Homo sapiens: one gene and its partners. The protein of the gene in region 1 purifies or fractionates together with the protein of each later gene. This does not show direct contact. Each region holds a gene or a part of one and is shown in the gene's direction. Other genes may lie near its edges.

The links.
Region 2: the proteins of FBXL5 (region 1) and ARHGDIB purify together in Homo sapiens (affinity purification with western blotting; one study listed by BioGRID). This does not show direct contact.
Region 3: the proteins of FBXL5 (region 1) and CENPF purify together in Homo sapiens (affinity purification with mass spectrometry; one large-scale study listed by BioGRID and IntAct). This does not show direct contact.
Region 4: the proteins of FBXL5 (region 1) and ZNF106 purify together in Homo sapiens (affinity purification with mass spectrometry; 2 studies listed by BioGRID and IntAct, with this or other methods). This does not show direct contact.
Region 5: the proteins of FBXL5 (region 1) and GCA purify together in Homo sapiens (affinity purification with mass spectrometry; 2 studies listed by BioGRID and IntAct, with this or other methods). This does not show direct contact.
Region 6: the proteins of FBXL5 (region 1) and ECI2 purify together in Homo sapiens (affinity purification with mass spectrometry; 2 studies listed by BioGRID and IntAct, with this or other methods). This does not show direct contact.
Region 7: the proteins of FBXL5 (region 1) and MAP7D1 purify together in Homo sapiens (affinity purification with mass spectrometry; 2 studies listed by BioGRID and IntAct, with this or other methods). This does not show direct contact.

Annotation. Positions count from the first base shown.
Region 1 is NC_000004.12:15,624,358-15,627,857, reverse strand, and holds part of FBXL5 (F-box/LRR-repeat protein 5), read left to right. Parts: intron 1-902; coding exon 903-985; intron 986-1,880; coding exon 1,881-2,606; intron 2,607-3,500.
Region 2 is NC_000012.12:14,948,102-14,951,601, reverse strand, and holds part of ARHGDIB (rho GDP-dissociation inhibitor 2), read left to right. Parts: intron 1-450; exon of another isoform or gene 451-685; intron 686-877; 5' UTR 878-889; coding exon 890-1,070; intron 1,071-1,716; coding exon 1,717-1,800; intron 1,801-2,705; exon of another isoform or gene 2,706-2,802; intron 2,803-3,500. UniProt on the Homo sapiens protein: Regulates the GDP/GTP exchange reaction of the Rho proteins by inhibiting the dissociation of GDP from them, and the subsequent binding of GTP to them. Regulates reorganization of the actin cytoskeleton mediated by Rho family members.
Region 3 is NC_000001.11:214,634,195-214,637,694, forward strand, and holds part of CENPF (centromere protein F), read left to right. Parts: intron 1-3,500. UniProt on the Homo sapiens protein: Required for kinetochore function and chromosome segregation in mitosis. Required for kinetochore localization of dynein, LIS1, NDE1 and NDEL1.
Region 4 is NC_000015.10:42,439,142-42,442,641, reverse strand, and holds part of ZNF106 (zinc finger protein 106), read left to right. Parts: intron 1-227; coding exon 228-569; intron 570-2,828; coding exon 2,829-3,500. UniProt on the Homo sapiens protein: RNA-binding protein. Specifically binds to 5'-GGGGCC-3' sequence repeats in RNA. Essential for maintenance of peripheral motor neuron and skeletal muscle function.
Region 5 is NC_000002.12:162,347,132-162,350,631, forward strand, and holds part of GCA (grancalcin), read left to right. Parts: intron 1-446; coding exon 447-611; intron 612-3,500. UniProt on the Homo sapiens protein: Calcium-binding protein that may play a role in the adhesion of neutrophils to fibronectin. May play a role in the formation of focal adhesions.
Region 6 is NC_000006.12:4,132,776-4,136,933, reverse strand, and holds the start of ECI2 (enoyl-CoA delta isomerase 2), read left to right. Parts: upstream 1-1,358; 5' UTR 1,359-1,373; coding exon 1,374-1,423; intron 1,424-1,465; exon of another isoform or gene 1,466-1,564; intron 1,565-3,222; coding exon 3,223-3,385; intron 3,386-4,158. UniProt on the Homo sapiens protein: Able to isomerize both 3-cis and 3-trans double bonds into the 2-trans form in a range of enoyl-CoA species. Has a preference for 3-trans substrates.
Region 7 is NC_000001.11:36,154,896-36,158,959, forward strand, and holds the start of MAP7D1 (MAP7 domain-containing protein 1), read left to right. Parts: upstream 1-1,264; 5' UTR 1,265-1,522; coding exon 1,523-1,568; intron 1,569-4,064. UniProt on the Homo sapiens protein: Microtubule-stabilizing protein involved in the control of cell motility and neurite outgrowth. Facilitate microtubule stabilization through the maintenance of acetylated stable microtubules.

The DNA of each region.
Region 1 (3,500 bases):
TATTAAGAAAAACAGCATGATAAGAGTTTGGTTTGCTCATTCCTGAGTTTAATTAAGGGGAAACAAACCCAAAAATGATTATTGAGTGCCTTCCTATGGGTAGGCATACACTGCTAGGTTACTTATTATTTCATTGCAGTTCTCACAACAATCTTTGTAGCATAATTATCATTACCTATATGTTACAGATGAGGAAACTGACTAGAAGAGGTTAAACATTTTATTCAGTTTCACAGATGTTAAGTGATAAAGCCCAGTTTTATGTGATTTTTTAAATAATATGTAAGGCATGGTAAGATGGGCAAATGAGATGAAATCACTGTTTTATAAAAGTGGATATTACGACTTCCTACATCAGAATCTTGAGTGTTCCTTAAAAATGTAAAAATCCTGGTTTAGTCTCATAACTGCTAAAACAGATACTTGGGCGGGTGCGGTGGCTCATGCCTGTAATCCCAGCACTTTGGGAGACCGAGGTGGGTGGATCATGAGGTCAGGAGTTCAAGACCAGCCTGGCCAATATGGTGAAACCCCATCTCTACTAAAAATGCAAAAATTAGCCAGATGTAGTGGCGTGTGCCTGTAGTCTCAGCTACTCAGGAGGCTGAGGCAGAAGAATCGCTTGAACCCGGAAGGCGGAGGTTGCAGTGAGCCAAGATACTGCCACTGCCCTCCAGCCTGGGTGACAGAGCGAGACTCTGTCTCAAAAAAAAAAAAAAAAAAAAAGAGATTCTCAGGGATTTGAGCCCAGAATATTTTATTATACTTTTTTCAAGTATTCAAGTGATTTTTTTTTATATTCACAAAAGTTTGTGAACTAGATTATGTTTACTAATAGTCATCTGTTACTTAGCTAACTGAAGTTCTGCAGATCTTTACAGTGACAATTTCTTGCCTTTTAGGTTAGGCAGATTTTAGAGCTTTGTCCTAACCTGGAGCATCTGGATCTTACCCAGACTGACATTTCAGATTCTGCATTTGACAGGTTAGTTATTTTAAACAATTTAAATATAATGAAAAACTATTTTATAAGGTTTCATTTATGTAATTGCAGTTTAATCATACTATTATTTTTTACTATCAAATCTCAGTCATGTCTGAGTATAATTTGATAGCACCCTCCAGTTCTTCACTTCTTACTCATAGGTCCCAGCTGATCCAAAAATCCCATCTGTATTATCTTGCAATCTCTGTAGTCCTATATTTTGTCTAGGCCCTTGAGCCCTGCTGTGCAACCATGTAGATTGGTATTATATGTTTTTAAGAAGTTTTAGTTTTAGTTGGGCTCTAAGTGCCATTTGGCAAAGCTCCCTCTTAGATTCTTCACAGTTACTCTGAAATAGTATAGTGTAACTTTCTTCAAGCCACCTTCTTCCCAGAGTATATCTCCTTGACCACCAATTCTCTGTATTATTGCTCACTCCCTCTTTCCCACCCAACTATTTATATCAGCACCTTTTTTCCTGCTGCAGAGGAAGAGGTATACTCTTCTCGGGCTAAAGCTAATGCTCCATCTTCCTAGAGCTTGTTTCTTATGGATCTTCCTCATTAACCGTCGGTTATTCTCTTTCTTTCATGTGTTTGCAGCCTTACTTCTGCTGACTACTTTTAGGATAATAAACTTAAGTCTTCCAATCCTTACGCCTCTCAAATCCTACCCTTCTGTTAGGTTAGGAATACTTTGACTTCCTTATTACTCTCATTGAGTTTTTGTATCCCTAGCATCAAGAATAGTACCTTAACAATAGATAATTCACTAAATACTTAAGTGATTATATTAGATGTCAAATCTTTCTTCTGGTTTTCATCTACATGCATATAGTCAAATGCTTTTGAAAAATTTAACAATATTCATTAATAGTCTTGTCTTTTAATTATAGTTGGTCTTGGCTTGGTTGCTGCCAGAGTCTTCGGCATCTTGATCTGTCTGGTTGTGAGAAAATCACAGATGTGGCCCTAGAGAAGATTTCCAGAGCTCTTGGAATTCTGACATCTCATCAAAGTGGCTTTTTGAAAACATCTACAAGCAAAATTACTTCAACTGCGTGGAAAAATAAAGACATTACCATGCAGTCCACCAAGCAGTATGCCTGTTTGCACGATTTAACTAACAAGGGCATTGGAGAAGAAATAGATAATGAACACCCCTGGACTAAGCCTGTTTCTTCTGAGAATTTCACTTCTCCTTATGTGTGGATGTTAGATGCTGAAGATTTGGCTGATATTGAAGATACTGTGGAATGGAGACATAGAAATGTTGAAAGTCTTTGTGTAATGGAAACAGCATCCAACTTTAGTTGTTCCACCTCTGGTTGTTTTAGTAAGGACATTGTTGGACTAAGGACTAGTGTCTGTTGGCAGCAGCATTGTGCTTCTCCAGCCTTTGCGTATTGTGGTCACTCATTTTGTTGTACAGGAACAGCTTTAAGAACTATGTCATCACTCCCAGAATCTTCTGCAATGTGTAGAAAAGCAGCAAGGACTAGATTGCCTAGGGGAAAAGACTTAATTTACTTTGGGAGTGAAAAATCTGATCAAGAGACTGGACGTGTACTTCTGTTTCTCAGTTTATCTGGATGTTATCAGATCACAGACCATGGTCTCAGGTGAGTTATCAGTTCCAGAATATTAAGAAATAGACGTGTTCTCATTTCCAAATGGAATATAAAAATTTTGATCTAAGTCATTCTTTTCAGTTGATTTACTTAGCAAAAAGGATTAACCAAGATCTGCCCTACTTCAGAGTTTTGGAGCAGTGTAACTTCTGTTATCAGTATGAAGTTTCATTTCTGTCAGTTCAAATCCATTGTGATGTATGGAAGAACATAAATTCTAAAGTTTAATAAATACTTAGTAAATGGCTACATCACATATTTTAAGGTACTTTAGTGGATGAAGAAGGTACAATTTTTACTCTCAAGAACATGTAACAAGAAAATATGCATATTCTGTTGCTGTGTATTATTTCTGTATGTTATAGTTTTATACTGAGGGTTTTGGAAAACGTAGGCTGTCCCTGGAAGTCATTTAGTCTGACTACACGGCTGTTAAGTGTTTACAAAAGCCAAAGCTGAGCTAGAGTTTCATATGTAGCTAGAGTTTAGAAATTTTGGTCTTTGATCATGATCAGCTTACCTTCTGTTGCTTTTTTAAGTCATAAAGAGAACATGTGGAAGAAGTTCTACATTTTCTTTTCTGTTTTTTTTTTTAATAAGCATAATCTTCAGCAGATTAAACCGACTTTTTTTTTTTTTTTTAACCTCCTAGAGGAAAGAAGGGCTGAAGGTGACACATGTGTCAGCCCAGACAGGTAGCTCTTTTCAGCAGCTAGGTTCTATATGTTTTATAGGACCCACCTCAAGATTTGTTAGGTTACGAGTATGCACTGTTGGAGAAAATACCATGGTGCACTGACTTGGGAGCATGGCAGACTTGATGTAGATTGATTTTGCTTTTTTCTGTATGACTGGCTTTGTGCAAAATACTTAACCTTATACTTT
Region 2 (3,500 bases), on another chromosome or scaffold:
GAGAAGGGGAGAGACTGAAAGGGAAGTGGATCCAGAAAAGGGAAATGGATGGACAAATGCTAAGGGCAAATTTGTACTTACGATTTTGTCTGGAGGAATTTAAACTGTCCTTTGCTATTTTTGTGGCATTTAAAAAGAATAGAATATCTTTAGATATAAAACCTTATATATCAATCAAGGAAATTGTATAAAGTGCCAGAACTATGCAAGTGTTTTAGGGGGAATTCAAGAAAAACAGCAAACCTAGTACCCACCCTTGAGGGGTGATTAGCAGTGTTGGGTGTGAACCATGCAGGCACCTGAGGCAGGTATCATAAAGGTCAACGGTTCGTCATGAGTCATCTTTGAGGCATTGCTGGAGTTCAGGGACAGATTCCATTGATGGGGAGGAGCCAACCATTTCTCTGGCAAGTACTCCACCTCTCTCTTCTCTCTCCTGCCTCTCTCCACCATTATCACTCAGACTGTGCATGCTGCAAGCTTTGACGCTAGCCAGGCTGGCTGGATTTGGAGGACTGTGATAACTCCTACAGCTTTTTGACTGGGCTTTTGCTTCATTTGTTCAGGAGTCTTTGTGCCATGTTGCTTCACTCGTAGTACGTTATTCACATATGAGTGATTTCTTTCTTGTCAGTTTTGTTCAGTGAATAGAAGATACTACAATGGTACAGAGAAATTCAGGCAGGTCAGAGAAATTACTAGAATACATTAGATTATTATTTCATAGAATTTAATGAGATTGAATTAGGAAAACAATCAGGAAAGTGACTGATGATCAGAGAAGTCCATGAGGGTAAGGAGGCTGCTAACAGCAGCCCCACTAACATCTTTTATATTCATGACTTGTTGACTAACGGGCTGTCATTCTGTCTCCCAGAAATAGATCAGAATGACTGAAAAAGCCCCAGAGCCACATGTGGAGGAGGATGACGATGATGAGCTGGACAGCAAGCTCAATTATAAGCCTCCACCACAGAAGTCCCTGAAAGAGCTGCAGGAAATGGACAAAGATGATGAGAGTCTAATTAAGTACAAGAAAACGCTGCTGGGAGATGGTCCTGTGGTGACAGGTATGTGTGTACAGAGAACAGGGTGGGTGGAAGATCGCTGAGAGGGAAGAAGACATTTTGGCTGCTCAGGAGCAGCAGCAAAGGGAAGAGGACCAACTGCTTCCAGGAAAAAGTGAGCGAGGCACAATTTATATATGCTGATTAAAGTTATGAACTGTATAATTAAGTCTTCTTAAGAGATAAGATGCAAGTCAGCAGTGAGATAGGCACACATAACACACAGAGGGGATTTAGAAAGAATTCCAGGCTACCACTTAGAATTGTATTTCTCTCTCTCCATTTTCTCTCTTTCTCAGTCCTTACCTAACCGTTCATCTCTTCCACATACACCGCGGCAGAACAAGACATGGCCCAGAGATATAAATGGACAGTGCCCAATTAGCAGAGTACCTGACCCATAGCCATTCAGGAAATGTTGGATGTCAATAATTAGATGGACCTACAAGTGCCTAAAGCAGAAATAACTTTGCTGTAATTTACAAGGCCATCAAGACCAAGCATAGCAAACCTGCCACATCCATTTCTATTTCTACTCCAGATAGAAAGATCACTTTTATTTTCATACTCTCTGTCTCCCACTTGAAATGCACACACCCACTATACACATGTCTCTTCTTGGTACTTACATTCCCTTTCGATCCTGCAGATCCGAAAGCCCCCAATGTCGTTGTCACCCGGCTCACCCTGGTTTGTGAGAGTGCCCCGGGACCAATCACCATGGACCTTACTGGTATGTAGACACATCTGTACTGTTCAAAGGGGGCCTAAGATATCACAAAGAAAACTTGGTCTCTGTCTCCTGTTCCAACAGAAGAAAACTGGTGAATCAGAGAGATATATATGCTAGGACCAGTTAACAAATCATTGCTCTTAGAGTGCACAGTATTTACCATGTTTCATGAAAAGCCCAATCTTTATCTCTATTTAATTGAAGAGAGTGCAGGCATACACATTTGATATATTTACAGATTTTTGTCTCCACATGATAGTAAGAGAATTGTTATTTATGCAATAAAGACTGCTGATGGAAATATTAAGAAACAAATTGTGTGCTTCTGAAGTTATAAGGTTTATACAGTCTAAACATCAAAGTATTGATCTTCTATCCACTACAAAACTTACTGGAAGGTGAGAAGCAATCCGGAATTATACTAGAAATTCCACTGCTATAGATTGAATTGTTTTAGCTTGAAACTCTGATTCTTGTTAAATAAACAACGTCTCCTACTAAAGGCGTACAAATTAAGATGTTATTTTCTTTCACCTTATTGTAACTAAGGGTCAAGCCTTTCCCTGAGACTTAGGGCTTGAGGAGGAGAGAGACTGGGAAGGGGGTTATTGTGGAGGAAATGGGCATCAGAGGGGATATGAGAGGAGAAGCACGGAGCCAGGAGATTGGGGCCTTCAAAGGCAAGTTTTTAGTGGAAAAAAAAAATAGTTACCAAATGAAAAAATTGGACTCTTGTGAGACAGACAAAGCACAAGTCTAGAACAGTTGGCTTAGTTAGCAGCAGAGTAGTTCCCCTCTCACAGGACACAGCCAGTCTTTACCTTATATGGGCTTTTTTGTCAGAGGGAGGAAATCAGAGGCTGAGAAGGCACACTTCCTGTTCAACTGAAATCATTAGAGCAGGCACACACACACATTCAGCTACCCCGACATGCTGACATCTCTCCAGGAGAGAAACTCACGCTCTCTCACCAGAACTCAGAGTCTTCCTAATATTACCAGGTACAGCTGCCAGTTTGCAAGATAAGGTCTGAATTAGCGCTAAAGAAATCTGTTCTCTTCAGCAGGACCTGGTAGTATTGCAAGGAAAACTTGGTCTCTGTCCCCTTTCCCAGCAGAGGAAAACCAAATTGGGTTTTCTGTCACTAACAAGCTGCTATGCATGAAGAAAAGCATAGAGAGTGATTACCTCCTTAATCAGGGTACAGGAATTTGGGACAGATCCTGGTTTTATGGAACCTGAAGCTTTTATAACTTCAGTGATATTCCTTAAGAAAAATAGTATGAAATTGCAAATGAAAATACAAGAGTAAACACAAAGGTGAACATTTTCTTAAAGTGATAAAATGAATAAAAACAAGTAGAATTTTAAAAGCTAGAAAATGCCACAAACATCACCAAATCTATAAAAACAAATAGCTGACACTCCTAAATACTATTTTTCTTATATGTTTTATTTGAGGGGTAAGGGGCATATTCTTTAATAACCTCTTCATTTGACCAGTAATATAATTCTCAATGAGAGAATAAATGGACCAAAAAAAGATTTATCTTCACAACTCATTATTTGTAATGTCTTGTGTATTTTTAGCATTGTCATCAAACTTGGGGGCAGGGAAACTCTCATGTTTTTCATAACAGAGCTGTAAGATTTCAGGCATTAAGTGTGTGTGTGTGTGTGTGTGTGTGTGTGTGTGTGT
Region 3 (3,500 bases), on another chromosome or scaffold:
GGCATCTGTGTGAAAGTGTCTAGCACCGGGCCTGGGGATGAAGTTAATATTTGTCTTAATTTATGGTTATGTTTATGTATGTGTCATCTTTTGAGGGTGATAGCAAGATTTCAAAGAGTTTGGCTGGCTCTTGTGTTTTGCATTGGGATTGGGACCAGATAACTGATGAACCCAGTTAGAGTGGTGGTGTAACTTAGTGGGAAAATGGTAGTGGCTTTAGAGTGAGTGAGATCTGAGATTGTGTTGCTTTTCTGCCACCTACCACAATGTGACCTTTAGACAGTGGCTTACCCTTTCTCAGTCTGACTTTCCTCATCTGCATATAGGGACAAATCATTCTCCTGCCTTTTCAAGGCTGTATTCTTGGTTAAGTTAAATATTGTATGTAAAGTGCTTAGCCCAGTGCCCAGCACATAAGTGCTCAGTCAGTTATTGCAGTCCAACACCTGCCCATTGCCTTGGTCTTCATCACTGCCATGACCTTTTGATGTTAGCATTGTTTGCTGTCACCTACAGGCACAGAAAGTGTGATCAGGGGACAGTGCACTTGAGATTTCTCATATTTATAATTTTGCCTGTTCTATTACTGTGTCACTCTGGGTATCTTTCTGTGTCTAATTATATGTAAGCACTAACAAATTTAGGACGCTTATAGGTTTTGGATGCCGAAATAATGTGACAGTTGTACTGAAATTTTCCTTGTCTGTGTTTAGTAAACATGCTGCTCACAATGAGAAATTATCAGTACTGGAAATGTGATTTAATGGCCCAATCAAGGGTAAAGTTAACATTTAGTATCAAAGTGAATGGAGGGTTTAGATAAGCTGCTCGTCCACTATCCAGTGCCAGCCCCATAGCATTGGGGTTAGGCAATAAAATACCATCGTTTGACAGTCAAGATGAGGGAACACTTGCCTGGGGACCTTTCCAAGCATAGGGATCTGTATTACACTAGGTCCTCTAAGGAGCTGGCTCTGGCAAGCAAGAGAGATGAGGAGGAAAGGGAAAAACACATTCTTTGCATCCATCCCTTATCCAAGTATATAGGCTTCGCCCAGCAGGGGACGTATTAAGCTATATTCATGGATGGGATCATGAAATGCCACACAGTAGCTGAAATTTGTTTTGTCTGGCCCTAGGAAATGATGCCTCCCTTGCTGCTCCTAAAGCGAAGTTGATCTGGGTGGAATTGCTTGCTAAGCTCTAATGCTGGCTTGTGGTTATAGGGATTTTTGTTGTGCTTTTCCAGCATAGTACCCAATTTTGCAAATCATGTGAGGATGCAGGAGATGCCTAGGAAAATGTATCTTTGTATGCTTAACTCATTGTTGATAATGAGATACCCAATCAAGTCTTAAGTGGCTGTAGCCTCGTGGAAAACTAATTGCTGATGGATGGCAGCTTGCACATCCATTTTCAGATGTTCATTTTCTAAATTCTGGCCTTTTAAAATTCTTGGGTTGGTCATAGCCATAGCATTATAAGCCTGCTGGGTCCCAGGATTGGCTGAACATTTCTTCGTTAGACACAAATATTTACGGAGCTAATGCCAGAATAGAGAAAGTCATGTTAATCTTTCCATTGAGCTTACTATTCATTTAAATGTCTCCAGTTATGGACAGACATGGATCGAGACCAACAAACACATAAACATAAAATTCCCCATCTTTCCCTGGTGCCCTCTCTCTCTTCTTTTTTCCTTCCTTCCTATTGGGACGCACCTAGTTTTGCACAGTGTCTTTCCAGCTTTCTTGTCAAGCCTCCAGATGCAGGTGTCATTTGATTTGATTAAAAAATTTTTTTTTTAGAGTAAGAAAATATTTTTTCATTTGCAAAATAAAAATGCTAAGTCGACCCAGGTAATTACATTCTAGTTCCTCTTCTATGTTGACCTCATTCAGCTGATCTTAGCATTGATTACAGAGATCTGGCTACTGTTAAATTTTGGGAGGAAATACTACTAATAATGCTACATTGCCCCTGTCAAAGTGCTTTAAGATGTTTGTCCTTTCACATCTGTGATCTCATTTGAGGGGTGATTATTCTGAGTCTGAAGAACAAACCAGTCATTATACGTTCCATAATTTAATGATGCTAATTTAAATCAATAACATTGTTGCACCTTAATGATCGTGCTTTGCAAAGTTTAACACTGACTAGTGTGAATGTTAGCCTATCAATCTTGAGATCGGTTGGAGCTGCCCTTTAGTTCTGATTGATATCTTAATTCGATAGAGTGTCAGTTTAGCAGCAGGGAAGCAGGATCAGGACACGGTAGATGGGAGTATAATAACTACAACAGGTTCTGTCTTATTTTAATGATGAAATGAACGCATATACATGAACGGAGCAGCTGCCAGCAAGTTTTCAAGTACTTTCTACTAGCCAGATTCTCCCTCTTCTTGAATTTGGCTTTGCTACATCGGTACCCATCTGCTGGTAGTAACCAGACTGATAATTGAAGGCAGCCTTCCAACACAGTATTGCCACGGCCATCTGTTTTCTAACAGTGCAGTAGGGTTTTGGAGGATGGGTCTTAATTGTTTCTTTAAGATTCAGAATTTTTCCTCTACTTCACAAAGGGGTAATTTTGGTAGGTTTGAAATGCAGTTTAGAAAAAAGTTAGCTTTATATGATTTTTCCCCGCTTGAGGATGTGAGGTGCTTGGTTCTCTTAGCTTGTAATGATTTATGCCAATTCCCTGTGGTCCAAAGGGTGGCATACAGTATAGGTTGAGATACTTGTTTGTTATGTGAGTCTTATGTGGTTAATAAGCAAAAAAGTTTTTCTTTGGCATGTAAATATTGCTTGCTTTTAAGATTCAGAACATATAGGCCTCCCTAGTAGTAGAATGGAACTACACATGTACCTGTGTTACTTTATTGCATGCTGTTGCGTGGATGTCTCTTCAATCAGATGCCCAAAGAACCTGTTTTCACTGTGAAAGCTCAGAAGCTAGAATTAATTCTTCCTCTGTGTTCCAGCCCTCTGATTTCCCATAGCACACTCAATGTCTCTTTAGTATTTAGCATATCCTATTGTGTATTAAATGATTAGTATCACATCTTCCCCCACTGGAGGATGTCTGCCCCAAGGGCAGAGACTCTGTCTTATTTATATTTGCATTTTTTGTAATGCACATTCCAGCATCTTGAATATTGTTGGTTTTCTTGATAAGCATTTATTGAAGGTAATTTTTCCCACAGAATCATTCCTGTAACAGCAAACCTTAAGATGGTTTTGCAATGAAAAGTAAACATATGTGCTGAGATTTTTTTTTTTTTTTGGTTTATTAACAAATCAAATGTTTGCAAAGGTATATTTGGCCATTCAGGTGTGATAGGAACTTGGAGGTTTTGTCTTGAGGATCTTGTAGATAGGATTTTCCTTTTGAGCTTACTCTTTAATAGGCGTATGAACAATGAGAAAGTTCAATGAAACTTCTTGAAAGAAAAAATTATCTTCAGATTTGGGTTTGATGCTGTTGTCTTCTGTTCATA
Region 4 (3,500 bases), on another chromosome or scaffold:
CTATCTCAAAAAAAAAAAAAAAAAAAAGAATGTTGATGCCTATTCTCTCTGTATCCTTGGTGGTTGTAGAGATTATATTCTCCATATTTCGGAGAATTATGAGGGACTATACTAATATACTTATTTATAATTCTTTTCTAATGTTTAAAAATACAAATTAGCTCAGACACAAATGACTTTTCAGATAACATTTTTGCATTTCTATGTATGTATGTTTCCCATTCTAGAAACATATGAACCTTCTGAGCACCCAGACCAGGTTCCCTGTAGCCTCACACGAGAACGAAGGAACAGTAGATCTCAAACATCCATTGATGCCGCACTGCTGCCCACTCCCTTTTTCCCACTTTTTCTGGAGCCTCCATCTTCCCATGTGTCTCCATCACCCACCGGAGCCTCTCTTCAAATAACCACGTCTCCTACTTTCCAAACCCATGGCAGTGTCCCTGCTCCAGACTCATCAGTTCAGATTAAACAAGAGCCCATGTCTCCTGAACAAGATGAGAATGTGAATGCTGTGCCACCAAGCTCTGCCTGCAATGTGTCCAAGGAATTACTGGAAGCTAATAGTATGTAAGCTTTTCTCTGGGTTAAGGGCATCCCAGTAGTGAGACTGGGGCATTTTTATATGAGTGATATAAGCCATACTTGCTCATTAAAACTAAAATGAGCAAGTACAACTAATTTGTCACTGGAATTCTCTTCATATATACAGGAGGATTCTTTTAAAATATTTTAGAGAATGTAATTTAAATATCAGTCATTTTCTTTCATTTCCTCTAATCTAGGGTTAGAGTTGACTTTGTATTAGCACCCACAAGGTTCCATTTATTAGGATAAGTACAAAATTTGTTTCGTGTGAAATAAATGGGGTTGAAGTTAATTCAGCCAATTTTCTGAATAAGGTCTATCCTCTGAATTTCTTTGCACTTACTGTCTATATAATCTCAAATACAAACCAGGATTAATATAAGCGTGAGAGGCAGGTGGCCATGATGGGGTTTGGAATCATCTACTAAGAACTTGCTGTTGAGAAATAGCCAGGGTTTTCACTCTTTTCAAAAAATAACACTTACCTGGTTATCATTTGAGAATACGTCTAAGCTATGTAAAATCCTGTTAGAAGTTTGCATTACCACAGTGGTGCTGTATTTGAAAATTAAGTCCAACAAACTGGCATTGTGTGGTTTCCTGAGCAAAAGCAAAAAGTTTAAAAAATTACTCTAGATTTTACTACCAGTACTATGTTGCAATATTAATCTAGATGTTAGTATCAAATATATAGCTTATTTATTTATTGAGACAGAGTCTCACTCTGACACTCAGGCTGGAGTATGGTGGCATAATCACAGCTCACCACAGGCTTGACCTCCTGGGCTCAGTTGATCCTCCCACCTCATCCTCCAGAGGAGCTAGGACTACAGATGCCTGCCACCATGCCCGGCTAATTTTTTTTTTTTTTTTTTTTAAGTAGAGATGGGGATTCACCATGTTGCCCAGGCTGGTCTTGATCTCCTGGGCTCAAGTGATCCACCCGCCTTGGCCTCCCAAAGTGCTCAGATTACAGGTGTGAGCCACTGCGCGTGACTTAGCATATATATATATATATATATATATATATATATATATATATATATATATATTTTTTTTTTTTTTTTAGACAGAGTTTCGCTTTTTGTTGCCCAGGCTGGTGTGCAATGGCATGCTCTTGGCTCACGGCAACCTCTGCCTCCCAGGTTCAAGTGATTGTCCTGTCTCAGCCTCCCGAATAGCTGGGATTACAGGCGCCCACCACCATGCCCAGCTAATTTATGTATTTTTAATAGAGACAGGCTTTCACCATGTTGGCCAAGCTGGTCTTGAACTCCTGACCTCAAGTGATCCGACCGCCTCAGCCTTCCAAAGTGCTGGGATTACAGACATGAGCCACCTTGCCCAGCCCCTAGCATATTTTTAAAAATTATTTTAAATTTTTGTGGGTACATAGTAGGTGTATATATTTATGGATTACATGAAATATTTTGGTACTATTATTTTTCGTATTACATATTATTTCAATCTTTCTTAAATCATATTTTTGTGTTTACATGTAGAACTTGTACAAAGGAGCAGTCATATATAACCTGACTTTTTCCATTTAATATATAATGATTTTTCTGTTGTAAAAATAATTTATCTAAAGTATTTTATATTACAAGTTGCATAATATTTGAATAGTTGCATAATCTGGCTAAACAATAATTTATGTGGTGAATCTTTTTTGAATATTTAGTTTTCTAACTTTTTTCATATTCTGTGTAACACTGCATTGTATATGTCTTTGAGTACATCTGTGATTATTTCATCACTTTTAATTCCTAGACATGAAGTAACTAAGTCAAAGGAAATTGACATTTCTAAGTCAGCAAATTTTTTTAACTACTAAGCTGTAGCTAAATTGGATGGGTGTGGATAATGAAAACTTCAAAGAAATAAAAGTAAAAGGACTTCAGCTAAGTAGACATTTAAGTGTCTACTAAGAATAAACCACAATGTTAAATGTGTGGACATTTAAAACAAGAAAAAAGATTGATAGAAACAATCCCTCCCCACAAGGAGCTTTTGTAGGGAATAAGACACACAGTGTTTGTGAGATTCACGCAAGGCAGAGGGTAGTAAGTGTTGTCATAGGAGTGTATGTAGGTGATGGGAAACTGAGGGGTGAGATACCAGCTGAAACAGTCATGGTTTTCTGAACATATCATTGAAATATTTGGTAGAGTTTCAGTCAGTGATAAATTGCAGCAAACACAAAAAAGGATGCAATAATTTTTTTCCTCTCAATTCAGGAGAGATCAGTGACAGTTGTCCAGTTTATCCAGTCATCACTGCTAGATTGTCCTTACCAGAGTCAACAGAAAGTTTCCATGAGCCTAGCCAAGAACTGAAGTTTTCTGTGGAGCAAAGAAATACCAGAAACAGAGAAAACTCTCCCTCTTCCCAATCAGCTGGTCTTTCTAGCATAAATAAAGAAGGGGAAGAGCCAACCAAAGGCAATAGTGGGTCTGAAGCCTGTACCAGTTCTTTTCTAAGATTGTCTTTTGCTTCAGAAACCCCTTTGGAGAAGGAACCCCACTCTCCAGCTGACCAGCCTGAACAACAGGCAGAATCCACTTTGACATCAGCTGAGACTAGGGGAAGCAAGAAAAAGAAGAAACTCCGGAAGAAGAAAAGTCTACGGGCTGCCCATGTTCCTGAGAATAGTGACACTGAACAGGATGTTTTGACTGTTAAACCTGTAAGGAAAGTAAAAGCTGGAAAGTTAATTAAAGGGGGGAAAGTAACAACCTCCACTTGGGAAGACAGCAGGACTGGTCGGGAGCAGGAGAGTGTCAGAGATGAGCCAGATAGTGACTCGTCTCTGGAAGTCCTAGAAATTCCTAATCCTCAGTTAGAAGTAGTAGCCATTGATTCTTCAGAATCAGGAGAAGAGAAACCAGACAGCCCATCTAAAAAGGATA
Region 5 (3,500 bases), on another chromosome or scaffold:
ATACAATACCCAACATATTGTAAATGTTGACACTTAAAGTTTCATTGTATTTACACATATATTCTTCTAAGTATGTGTCTTGAGGTTTACTTCTTAGTTTTACTTTAGGTAAAATCTTGCATTGTTTTACTTTTTGTTTACTTCAGTGATGTTGGTAAACATTTTTTAAAATTGTACATGTTCCTCTTAGATTAAGTTCTTAGAGGCTAGTAACTTTCTTTTTTCTTTTATACTTCTTTTAATGCTGGGTAATATATGTTGATGAATTGAATTATGTCTTAATGTAGGACATCTAACATTTTGTAGTTAAAATTTTTGTGATAAGATTATAAGCTTTTGGTAACTGTTTACTTTTTGACGGACTTCTAATAATTTCTTTTAATCCAACTTTCATAGATAATAGGTAGTATTTATATTACTAACCTTCTCCCCTTTCACTATTATAGTTTGGAAATTTTAGCATTCAGGTGCCAGGAATGCAGATGGGACAGCCAGTGCCAGAAACAGGCCCAGCTATACTCCTCGATGGATACTCTGGGCCAGCATATTCAGACACTTATTCCTCAGCTGGTGACTCCGTGTATACTTACTTCAGTGCTGTTGCTGGACAGGTGAGATGCTAAATTTATTGCATAAATATGTCTTTAAAATTATTGTTTAAGAGAAATGTCAGCTATTTAGAGTATCATTTTAAATGTATATGAAATTTATATTTTATATGTATCTAGACTAATTTTTTTCCTGAGATCAGAGATGAGCATAGTCATAATTATTTCATTTTAAAAGTCTGTTGATGTGATGCTTGATACATTGTTCATTTGACTAAAAGAGGAAACATTGTTTTCCATAGTGCGGAAATCTGATTCTTTCTTACCTAGTATGCTTGCGTTACTGAAATTCTTCTACAAGGGGCTCCTCTTACTAGTCACTAAACACCCCACCAAAACTTAGATATATCTTCTTATGAGTTATAATTTTTCTGTCACTTAAATCTTTTTATTTCCTTCACTCTGTTTGACATTTAGGAGCATCATACTCTCCCTGAGTGATAGATAACACAAAGCTAAGTAGGTTTAGCCTGCACATTCTTTTATAGCATGCAAAAATGACTATTGGAAATTTTAGGAAAGTAGGAAGCACTTTAAAAAATTATAAGGAACAATATTTCTAACTTGGGCCTCACTCCCATTTTTTAAAAAAAACTCAGTTAAAACCTAAGTATGTCAAACAATATGATTGGAAATCACTTCAGAGTCTCGTAAATTTATTCAGGTTGAGAAATTACATTTTTTTCACAGGTGAAGTTATATCATTTATAGTAATTTTGATTTGATATGGCTGGTAAATTTTCCAGGTTATCAAAATAATCATGTCAGGATTTATTAATTAAAAATTAAAGGAAATAGTATGTTACGATGTGGTATGGTTTTAGGATGTTATTTGTTTCCAGTAAATTTGAGTGATTATTTAAAGGACTGACTTTATTATGACCAATAGGGACGTGTGAAACTGCCAGTTCAAGTACATGAATTCTGTGGGTGAATTGTTACTGATGATATGTGAATACTGTGGTCAACGGAAGCTTTTCTTTTACTCCTACATAACTGTAACACCATACCACAGTTTATTCTTTTCCAAGTGATTTTATATATATTTTTCATGTGAAATTTCAAGGAAAATTAAGCAAATAGGATATGTATTATACCCCTTTGTATCAGTTATTAGTTGTATTTGACAGAAGTATTGAGTAAATATTCAAGATCGGAAGGAATACAATATTATAAGATGCCAATGTCTTCCAAATTAATTGATAAATAATATAATATTATATGAGTCAAATTCCTAAAGGTTTCTTTTTCTTTTTTCTTTTTGGCACTTGCTGCAATGATTCTAAAGTCTGTCTTGTATACTATGTTGTTGAGAATAAATATTAAATTATAATATATCATATAAATGTATTATTAATAATTGTGATAGTGTGGTCCTAATGTAAAAACAAACATAATACTGAAGAGCCCAGAAGCTTACCTGTGAATTCAGTATATGGTAGAGGTAGCATTTCATATCAGTGGGGAAAGAATGATTCCTGAATTAACTATCCTGAAATAATTAACAGTTTATCTAAAAGTAAATGTAAATCTTCAGCCTGTACCATATAGTAGCATGAATTCCAGATATATTAAAGGATTGAAAAGAGGGTGTATTGATGTTTATCTCCTGTTGTTGAAATAAATGAGCTTGTCTTTTTTTTTTTGCTGCTGCTTCAGCATGTATTGCAGCACCTGCTATATTTGTGTTTTTGTCTACAAAACTTCTTAGAAGAGTGATGAACTAAGATAGTTGCATGTGTTAATGAAACATTTGGGAACATCTTTTTAAGATGTGTGTTTTTTTTTCTTGATATGTTTCATTCACTTGTTTAACAATTTGGGGGGAAAGTTGAAAGCTCTTCTGTGGTTATGGAATACAGTGGATTGGTGCATGGAGACTGGGGGCCAGAGAGGATTTGGAAAAAGAGATCTACATGAAAATCATCTTGAAGGAGTTGGGGCAATGTATCAAAGAGGAGATTTGTAAATTGTGGATGGTTCTGGGACAGGCTCGATGATAAAACAGATTAGGAAAAGGCAAAGAAACTGGCAGAATGGATGTTCTAATACCATACTAATGGGCAGAAACAGAAATTCACTCTAGAGTCTTAGCTGTAGTCCATATCTCTTTTCTTTTATAATGGTCAAGAAAGATTTATTGATGTAGGTAGAATTTTATAGAACTTTAATAACATTTTATTCATTCCCTTGAGTGTTCACTAGGTCTAATGTGCTTTTCTAGGATTAGACAATATACACAGAATTAATATACGTGGCAGACATTCTGTTTTGGCTACCCCAATTTCATTTAAAACCCCCTTTTACCTTTTATTATGTAATAGAGGCTGGGGAACTATAATAGTCACCATCCCAGATACCTTTGTAGCTATTAAAGGCAGCCATGTGCCGTAGGACTGACCATTGACATGTAGGTGCAGTATCTTTGGAAAATCTTTCTACCCCAAATGAAAAAAGCCTTACTGGGAGCAAGCCTTGGCTGTGGCTGTTTTTGCCCCTTCATTCTTCCTGCCTGGAAAGGGGACTTGAGGTATGGAGGTGCAGTAGCCATCTCGTGACCCTGAGACAACAGGCTTGAGATAAAGACCTATAGATAGGGAATGTGGAAAAATGTAGAGACTGATGACATGTCTAAGTTGCCATACAGCCCTGTTCTGCCTAGCCTCAGACCTATTGTATGAAACAATAAACCCCTATTGGTTTAAGCATCTTCAATAATATTTTCTCCTGTTTGCAGCTAAATGGTACCTTAACTGTTCTACTCATTATACCATTGCCATTTTAAAGGATTATACTGGGAATAAGTAGTATTATACTGAGAATAATTCTATTATCTCTGTTTGACTATATAATACATTCATCATATAAAATTACAACTTAAAGTATATGAAC
Region 6 (4,158 bases), on another chromosome or scaffold:
CTCAAAAAAAAAAAAATCTCTTTGGGATAAGCCCAAATTGTTCTATTTGACTTTTGGTGTTGCCCCATCTACACTATTACCCAGATCTACCTGATGAAACTTAATGATAAAGTTACTTGAGACTTGGACTCTGCCCACCTGCAAGCCTCCTGTCTTTGGGGAATTCACCTGATTAATCTTTCTGGGTCTCAGTTTCCACATCAGCTCAACAGGGCAATATGCTCAACAGGGCAATTTCCACATCAGCTCAACAGGGCAATATCATTTTCCTTACAGGGTTGTCCAAAGACTTACAATTAGCCTGGCTCACTATAGGTAGTCCACAGGTGTCAGCTACATAAATCTAAAACTCCTAGGCATGCTTGGATGGGACAACTTGGGCACAGAATTTAGAGGGGTGGTTTTGTTTCGTTTTGTTCTGTTTTGTTTTTTGGTTCTCTGGGAACTGGACAAGGTGACACAGCCAAGGCCCTTCCAACTCTTAAGAATTCTTCCCCAAAGAAAATACTTTGCAAATGCCTCAGCAGAACTCAAAAATATCCACAAACTCTTCACTGACACTAAAAACTTGGGTACTCCAAAAATCACTTCTGACCCCCAGGCGTCCTACCAGGTCTGCAAACCTTCGATTTGGGGATGCATGACCTAGCAGCTTTTAAGCATACGCCCTCAATTGTTACCCCACCTCCCGGCTCAGGGCTGGCCCTCGGGATGCAGCGACCCCTCCTCGCCAGGCTCCGCGGGACTCCGGGCAGGGCGCTCAGTGCTCCGGCAGCCACAGGGTTCGCAGAGCTGAGGTCCGCCCGAGAGAGCAGCCGCGCCTCCAGCTCGCAGTTACTCGGAGCCAGGCCGGGGAGCATCTGTGCCCCGCCCCACGCGCCGCGCAAGTCCTCCCGGGATCACCCTCCCCGCGCCGCGAACCCCCCGCACTTCCTCCACTCCCGGGTGATACCCGGCCTCGCTCCGGCCCCGCCCCCGCATCTGAGCCCCGACTCCTAACCGCCTAGAGCTCCCGCCCCGCCCACGCACCGACCCCCCCGGCCCCACCCCCGAGCCCCCGCAGCCCCAGAGGAGGCCACGGGCTAGCGATGGCGAATGCGGCGTGGCTACGCTCTCAGCCTGGCCCCGCCCCAACCCTGGCCCCGCCCATGCCCCAGGCTCCTGCCTGGGCTCTGCTCTCGGCCCCGCCCCGCACCCAAGCCCCGGCCCCACCCCCGAGCCCCCGCAGCCCGGGAGCCTAGGCCCCGCCCCCGAGTCCCGGCTCCACCCCCGAGACCCGGCCCCACCCCCGAGCCCCCGCAGACCGAGCTAGGCCCCGCCCCCGAGACCCGGCCCCACCCCCGAGCCCCCGCAGCCCTAGAGCCGCCCAAGGGATGGCGATGGCGTACTTGGCTTGGAGACTGGCGCGGCGTTCGTGTCCGAGGTAAGCTTGGAGTCCCGGCCGTTCGGCCCATGGTCGCCCGCAGGATACCGCTGTCCAGGCGAAGGTCGCCGCCGTTGGAAGACCCTCCTTCCCTATTGTCTAGGTGGCAACAGGATTTTGCTTTGCTGGTTTTCCGGTGAGGTAGTGCTAAAAAGTGACGACCTCACGCGCGCCCTCCTGCACCGCTGGGCCCGGAGTGGTCAGGATGGGCGCGTCGGGAGGTCAGGGCTATGGTTCCCTGTCAGCAGTCCCCAAGGTCTCCGCCTGCCTCCGCGCACGCTCCCATCCTCCTGGGGCCGGACTCCGGGCGGGTGAGCCGCCCCAGCTGAGCACCCGGGCCTGCACTTCCCAGCCGGGCTGCTTCTGGGGTGCAAAGCGTCGCTTGCTAAAAGCGAGGTAAACGCAAGCCGTTATCACTCGTGTGGACTTAACACTCTGCTTCTTGGAGAACACGTATGCTATAAAGTGAAATGGCCGGGTACAGAGTAACGGCTAAGAAGCACGCTGCACCTCCCTGGGGTCCCGGGAACCCGCACGAATCTGTGCATAGGGAACAAAACCGAAACACGGTGGTGGCCTTGAAGTGGTAGAATTATGAGTGATTTTCCCGACTTTATGTATTTTCTTAAATGGTCGTGTTTTTGCTATTTGTTTTTAAAACTCACGCTTTATTTAAAAATAAATTTGTTCCACATTTTGTGGAAACTTGTACATTTCGGCTTTCTGTGGATATTTTAAATTTTTCTTTCGTTTTCTACGTGGAATTTGCCATATAAGATGCAGTTTTTCCCTTTACAGAAAATCATTTTAATGTAAAACTTACTCTAGGCTGATCTTACTGAATCAGTTACTAATAGTCCAAAGTTTGAACCTAGAGTTCATTGCACCATTTTCGAGTTACATAATTGTGTTTGTGTGTTAGGTTTGGGCTTTGTAACCTGTATTATTTTAATCATCTTTTTTGCCATTAACTCTATTATTCAGTGTCATCGTCGTGAACTCCATTTTTAGCTTGTGGCCTGAGTCCTGTGCATTCAAGTTTGCCACCCCACCCCCGCTCACTATGTGTGCTTAAAAACGTGCTGATCACCCCCGCGGTGGTTGCTGTTTCTGCTCTGTTCCTGGCTGGCTGGTTAAACATACCCATAGAAAGGGGCACGCCTGCTGAGCCCCCTTCACTGACTCCCTTCCACTGCAGGTAGATTCCCTCCCATCTGCTGAGAAGGCTGTGGCTCTATCTGGAATGCCAGCAACTGCTCGTGTGTTCTTTTGAATATTTCTTGTATGTTCACATCCATTCTCCCCTCCTTCCACCTGTGTGTATGTTGGAACACCAGCTTCGCCAGCAAAGAGGCAAGAATTGACCTGATATAGCTTATGGCTTATCAGTGAGTGCAGAGGCTGTTTCAGGACTTTGGGACACTTCACTAAATTCTGTGCACTTTAGCCTTTTGGTTTCCTGCTGTCCACTGTCTTGCATGCACTTCACTTCTTGCCTTTGGCAAAATTTACATGGTCATTCCTGTTCTGGCTGCTTTTATCTTTAGTTGCTTACAGATACCTCCCTGGATGGTTACTTTTCCTTTTATTTAAAGTTACTACTGTTAGCTTCTGTATTGACTTATTATCTTGGAATCCTTACAGCCAATTATTTGCAGCCAGTTTGCTGAGGCAAGTATAAAGAAAATATCTATAGACAAACATGGCATTTTGTTATGTATAGGCTGGGAACAATTAGAAATCAGGCTGCAGAAATGTGAGGGTTGGGAACAAATAGAAATCAGTCTGCCTAATTGTAGTTCTCTGCAGGTCACTAGTTTCCCGGTAGTTCAGCTGCACATGAATAGAACAGCAATGAGAGCCAGTCAGAAGGACTTTGAAAATTCAATGAATCAAGTGAAACTCTTGAAAAAGGATCCAGGAAACGAAGTGAAGCTAAAACTCTACGCGCTATATAAGCAGGTAAATGCCTACGGTCGAACGTTATTTAAAGAATTTTGGGCAAATGACTTCTTAAATAAATACACTGTGTGTTTACTAAAATGTGGCCTTAACATTTTGGTTTGTCTTGCTCCCTCTTCTCTGAAGAGTGTGTGTGTGTATATATATATATGCCAGTTTTTTATATTAGACCTTGAAATACTATTAAGGCACAAAGTGCCTCAGTGTCACACGAGTAAAAGAGACTTACGAGATATAATATTCACATTTGTAGACCTTACTTAGCTCTTGATTAGAATAAATCAACTGAAAAAGGTATTTTTAAGACAATTGGGGAAGTTTTGAGTAAGGACAGAGTGTTAGAAGATACCTAGAAATCATCGTTAATGGTGTCAAGGTTATATAAGAAAATGTTGATATTTTTAAGAAAAGTGTACTAAGGATATAGGGGTGAAATAGCATGGATAGTTGAAGTTCTCTAAGCACAAAAAGAAAAGGATAGATGAGGCCAGGCATGGTGGCTCACGCCTGTAATCCCAGCACTTTGGGAGGCTGAGGCGGGCAGATCCCTTAAGGTCAGGAGTTTGAGACCAGCCTGGCCAACATGGTGAAACCTCATCTCTACTAAAAACTCAAAAATGAGCTGGACTGGTGGCGCACACCTGTAATCCCAGCTACTTGGGAAGCTGAGGCAGGAGAATCGTTTGAACCTGTGAGGTGCAGGTTGCAATGAGCCAAGATTGCGCCACTGCACTCCAGCCTGAGTGACAGAGCGAGACTCTGTCCAAAAACGA
Region 7 (4,064 bases), on another chromosome or scaffold:
CACTATTCCCTTCCCAGGCCTTCCCAAGAGTGTCCAAGCCCCCAGATACGCACACATCCCAGGACAGGCTGCTCCCAGGTTGCCTGAGCCCCTGACCCTTTTGTTTCCCACTCTATCCCTCCAAATGGCCGCTTTCTGGAGCTGCTTAAAGGAAGGAGAAACTGGAGGGAAGGGGGGCAAGGGGGACAGTATCTCACTGGGCCTAATCTCTGGACAATGAAGAACTAGAGAACTGACCTTCTAGAAGTCAGGACAAAGGGCAGGGCCAGGGTGGGCAGGGCACAGCTGCCCCTCCTCCTCCCCCGCAACCCAAGTCCCTGCAGCAGCACCACCATCATCCATCCACCTTCCCAGCAAGCTCCCCACTCTGCCCCGGGCTGGGCCTGGCTTGGCTTGAAGCCCTCACCTCAGCTGGCACCAACAAGGGGGCTGGGAGTCCATTCTGGAGGGCTGGGAAGCAGGGCTACTTTGGGGAGTGGATTCTGGAGGGGGTCACCACCCCCTCATCGACAGACCACTGGGAGAAAATCCTTCTGGGGTGATTGGCGGGGTCGTCTGGTGGGGGTGGGGGAGGTCCAGGGCTAGGACCACCCAGTTTGGAGCCGGGAGGGACCCAGCAGATTAGAGACCTGGGTAAGGCAGCTGCGCAGGGCTGTAATTACCCCCAGAGGAGCAGGGAAGACACAAGCGCAGAATGCCGGAGCAAGGGCGGCAGCAAGGCTCCCAGACCTGTCCCCAGCCCAGCCATCAGCAGGGGAGAGAAAGCGAAACCCTTTCAGGGGTCTCCTTGTGACTCTCCTTCATGCCTCCCGACGTCCCCCGGGCCGCTTTGGTTTAGGTGGGTTTGAGCGAGAATTTGGACTCGAAGCTGCCCTCTCAGCCCCAGTGCCAGAGCCCCCAAACTCCAGGGTGGGAAAGGGGAGTCCCAGCCCTGCTCCCCCTCTCCCCCAGTCCCCGCGGCGGGTGAGTCACCCGAGCGCTCCCTACTTAGTCCTCAGGCGCTGCGGCGCGTACCAAGACGCGGACGCAGGGGGAGGCAGCTAGCGCGGCGAACTCCTGGAGCCGTGGAGCCCGCTCGGCCGTGGCCGTGGGAGAGGCGCCGGGAGGCTGCGGGCGCGGGGCTCCGGGGCGGGGGCGGCGCGAACGGCGCGGACGGCGCGGGCGCGGGGGGCTGGGTCCCGGGGCGCTGCTGGGGTGGACCCCCCCGCCTCGAACTTGGTACGCGCCAGCGAGAGGCCAGGCCCAGCCCGGGCGGTACAATAGGGTTGGGCCGAGGCCGGGACTGGGCCGGCGCCGGGCGGGGAACGGGTTCGCGACCGCAGCCGAGAGACCCCGGGCGACCGGCACCTCCGAGACTCGCGGGCCACCTGCCTCGACCTTCCCCGGAGCGCCCCCGCCTCCGAGTCGCTACTTGCCGGGCCGGGCCGGGCCGGGCGTGATGCGCCGCGGGACCCCTGTCCTGGCCACTGGCCGCCGCCGCCGCCGCCGCTGAGACCCCGAGACCCCCAGTGACGCCGCAGCCATGGAGAGCGGCCCGCGTGCGGAGCTGGGGGCGGGCGCACCCCCAGGTATGCCGGGAGCCACGCGGAGGCGAGATGGGGGTAGATGGAGGGGCTGCAGGGCGGCCGAGGATGAGGCCGGCCGGCTGGGCGGGGACCCCTCCGCTGCCGCGCCCTCTGACCACTTGGAAGTTTAAAAATAAAGGCTGCGGCGGCGGCGGCTCCAGGCTCGCGATGCATCCTCTGACAGCTGCCCCCTCCCCCACCCCGGGTGCCGGACGCATCGGGCGTCGGGAGCCGCAGGGACCCCGCGCGGGAGTTGTTGGGGTGACCCTTCTGCCCCAGCTTAGTGCCATCTCAGCTTCCCCGCCCCCACGTCCCTTCCCGATTCACCCCGGGCCTTGAAGATCCTCTTCTACTGAGCTAGGGCTTCCGTCCCCTTCCCCATCCCCCGTGGCACATGTGACCCCAGCCTGAGTGTGTCGGGGGTCCATATTCTCAGGCCTGGGCCCTGCATACCGACGCCTCGGCCTTAGTGCCCGTACCCTCAGGCCCTGGCCCAGACCTCGCCCCCACCCCATCCGTCCAGCTGCCGCGCAAAGGGCCTGTTGCTGCTGCGGGCCGGCGGGGAGGGGAAAGGAGGGAGGGGAGGAGAGAGGGAGGTCTCTAGCCGCTGCTGCCAAGTAACCCGCCGGATAAAGGCGAGGGGGAGGGGGAGGCGGCATTGTTTGGGGTGAGGGCGGGAGCTGGGGAGTGGGCCGCCTCCCCTGCAGCCAGGCCTACTCTGGAGCCCACCCAGCCTGATTCGGGGAGGAGGGGGACAGAAGTAAATCTGCTTCTCCTGCCTGCCCTCCTTCCCAGCCTCTCTGGGCCCCAATCTCCCACTAGAGAATGAGGTAAAGGCTCCAAGCCGGCACTCCCTGGACCTGCCACATCATTCCCCAGCCTGAGGCTTTGATACCTCCCCCCTTACTCTCTTTTTTTCTCTCTTTCTGCCCACACCTTAGACCACCAAAGCTCCCCTCCCCTCCCTCACCCCACCAACCACCAGTGCTCAGGACTTCTGCAAATCCCATTCGGATCTGGGAGCAGCTGATGAGGGGGTGGGGACAGGTTTCTGGTTGGGCTTGGTTTTGGAGGGAGGCGATTTCTCTTTCTTCCTGGAAGGGGAGGGAAGAACATGATTATTGAAGACCCAAGTTCTGTTCCCATTGACTCAGGGGGGAGGTGGCCCCATCCCCACACCCCCATGGAGTCCTGAGCCTAATCCTGTCACCTCCCTGCCCCTTGGGGTGTGGGCACAGGATGAAACAGTTCGTGTGGGTGCGGAGAGCCCAGGATAAGGTGGGGCCAATGGGCTGTGGGTGGGCTCCTCCCCATGCCAGCGAGGATGCTTCTAGGGGACTGTCTGGGTGTGGGACCTGGGAGAACAGGGAGGGGAGGCTACCATCAGACTGGTGGGTTTCAGGAGGCTTGTAGGCTGGGCTGGAAACAAGGGTGGCTGGGTCTGTCCTGGTTTGGCTGAACCTGAGAGGGGACACCCAGGGAGGCCCAGCCTGAGTCCAACCTCAGCTTACTGGCCCTCTGCACCTGAGGGCCTCTGGCACTGGATAGTTGGGGGCCTGAATGGGGGTGGTGACTGGGATACAGAGCCTGAGCTGGTGGCTAGTTTATAATTAGGATACTTGGGTAGGATGCCTAGACTGAATATGAGAGCATGGGTGAGATGCTTGGCTCTCCTAGGGGCAGGGGGGATGTTCGGTGGGCGGGGAGGGCTGCGTCAGGGGCCGGTGGGCAGACTGCATATAGGCTTCTTGCATTGAGAGGACTCTTCTATACACAGGGATCTAGATGGAGTCACATGAGAACCTGGATCAGGATGGTGGCAGTTCCCCACACAGAATAGTCAAAGGTGACAGGAGTCCTCTGTGGGGCTTTCTGGGAGTAAATGTGCTCACAGCATGTGCCCTGTGATAGTCTGAGGCATGGGCCTGACACTCCGAGAGCATGTGACACGAACCCTGCTCCCTCTGAGTTCCTTTTTGCACTTGGACACTGAGCAGTAACAGGGGGTGGTGTGGAGTAGAGGACAAGTGTGGGGACCACTTTCAGGTCAGAAAACCTGGATGGAAATCCCAGTTAGCCATGTACTGGCTACTGGACTGGAGCAAGTGACTTACCTCCTGGAGCCACAGTTTCTGCCCCTGGAAAATAGGGGCAGTGTTGTCAACCTTGTGGGGTTAATGTGAGGGTTAGAGATGATTTAACTCAAGGAATCTGGCACGCAGACACCAGACACCTGCAATAAAGTGTTATTACCATTATTGTGGTTATGCTTCTGCAACCGGTGCCAGCAGGGAGGTATGAAATATAGGGGAGGGTGGGAGCAGGAATTGGAAGTCGATTTGTTTAAGAGTGTAGATTTTGGAATTAAACAGTTTAAGTCTCCACTTCGTAACTTACCTCTGTGTGACCTCAGTAAGTTGCTTAACCTAAGTCTTAAGTTTGCTCATCTGTAAAATGAGAATAATGCTAGAAATTATCTCATAGAGACATTGGCATCCT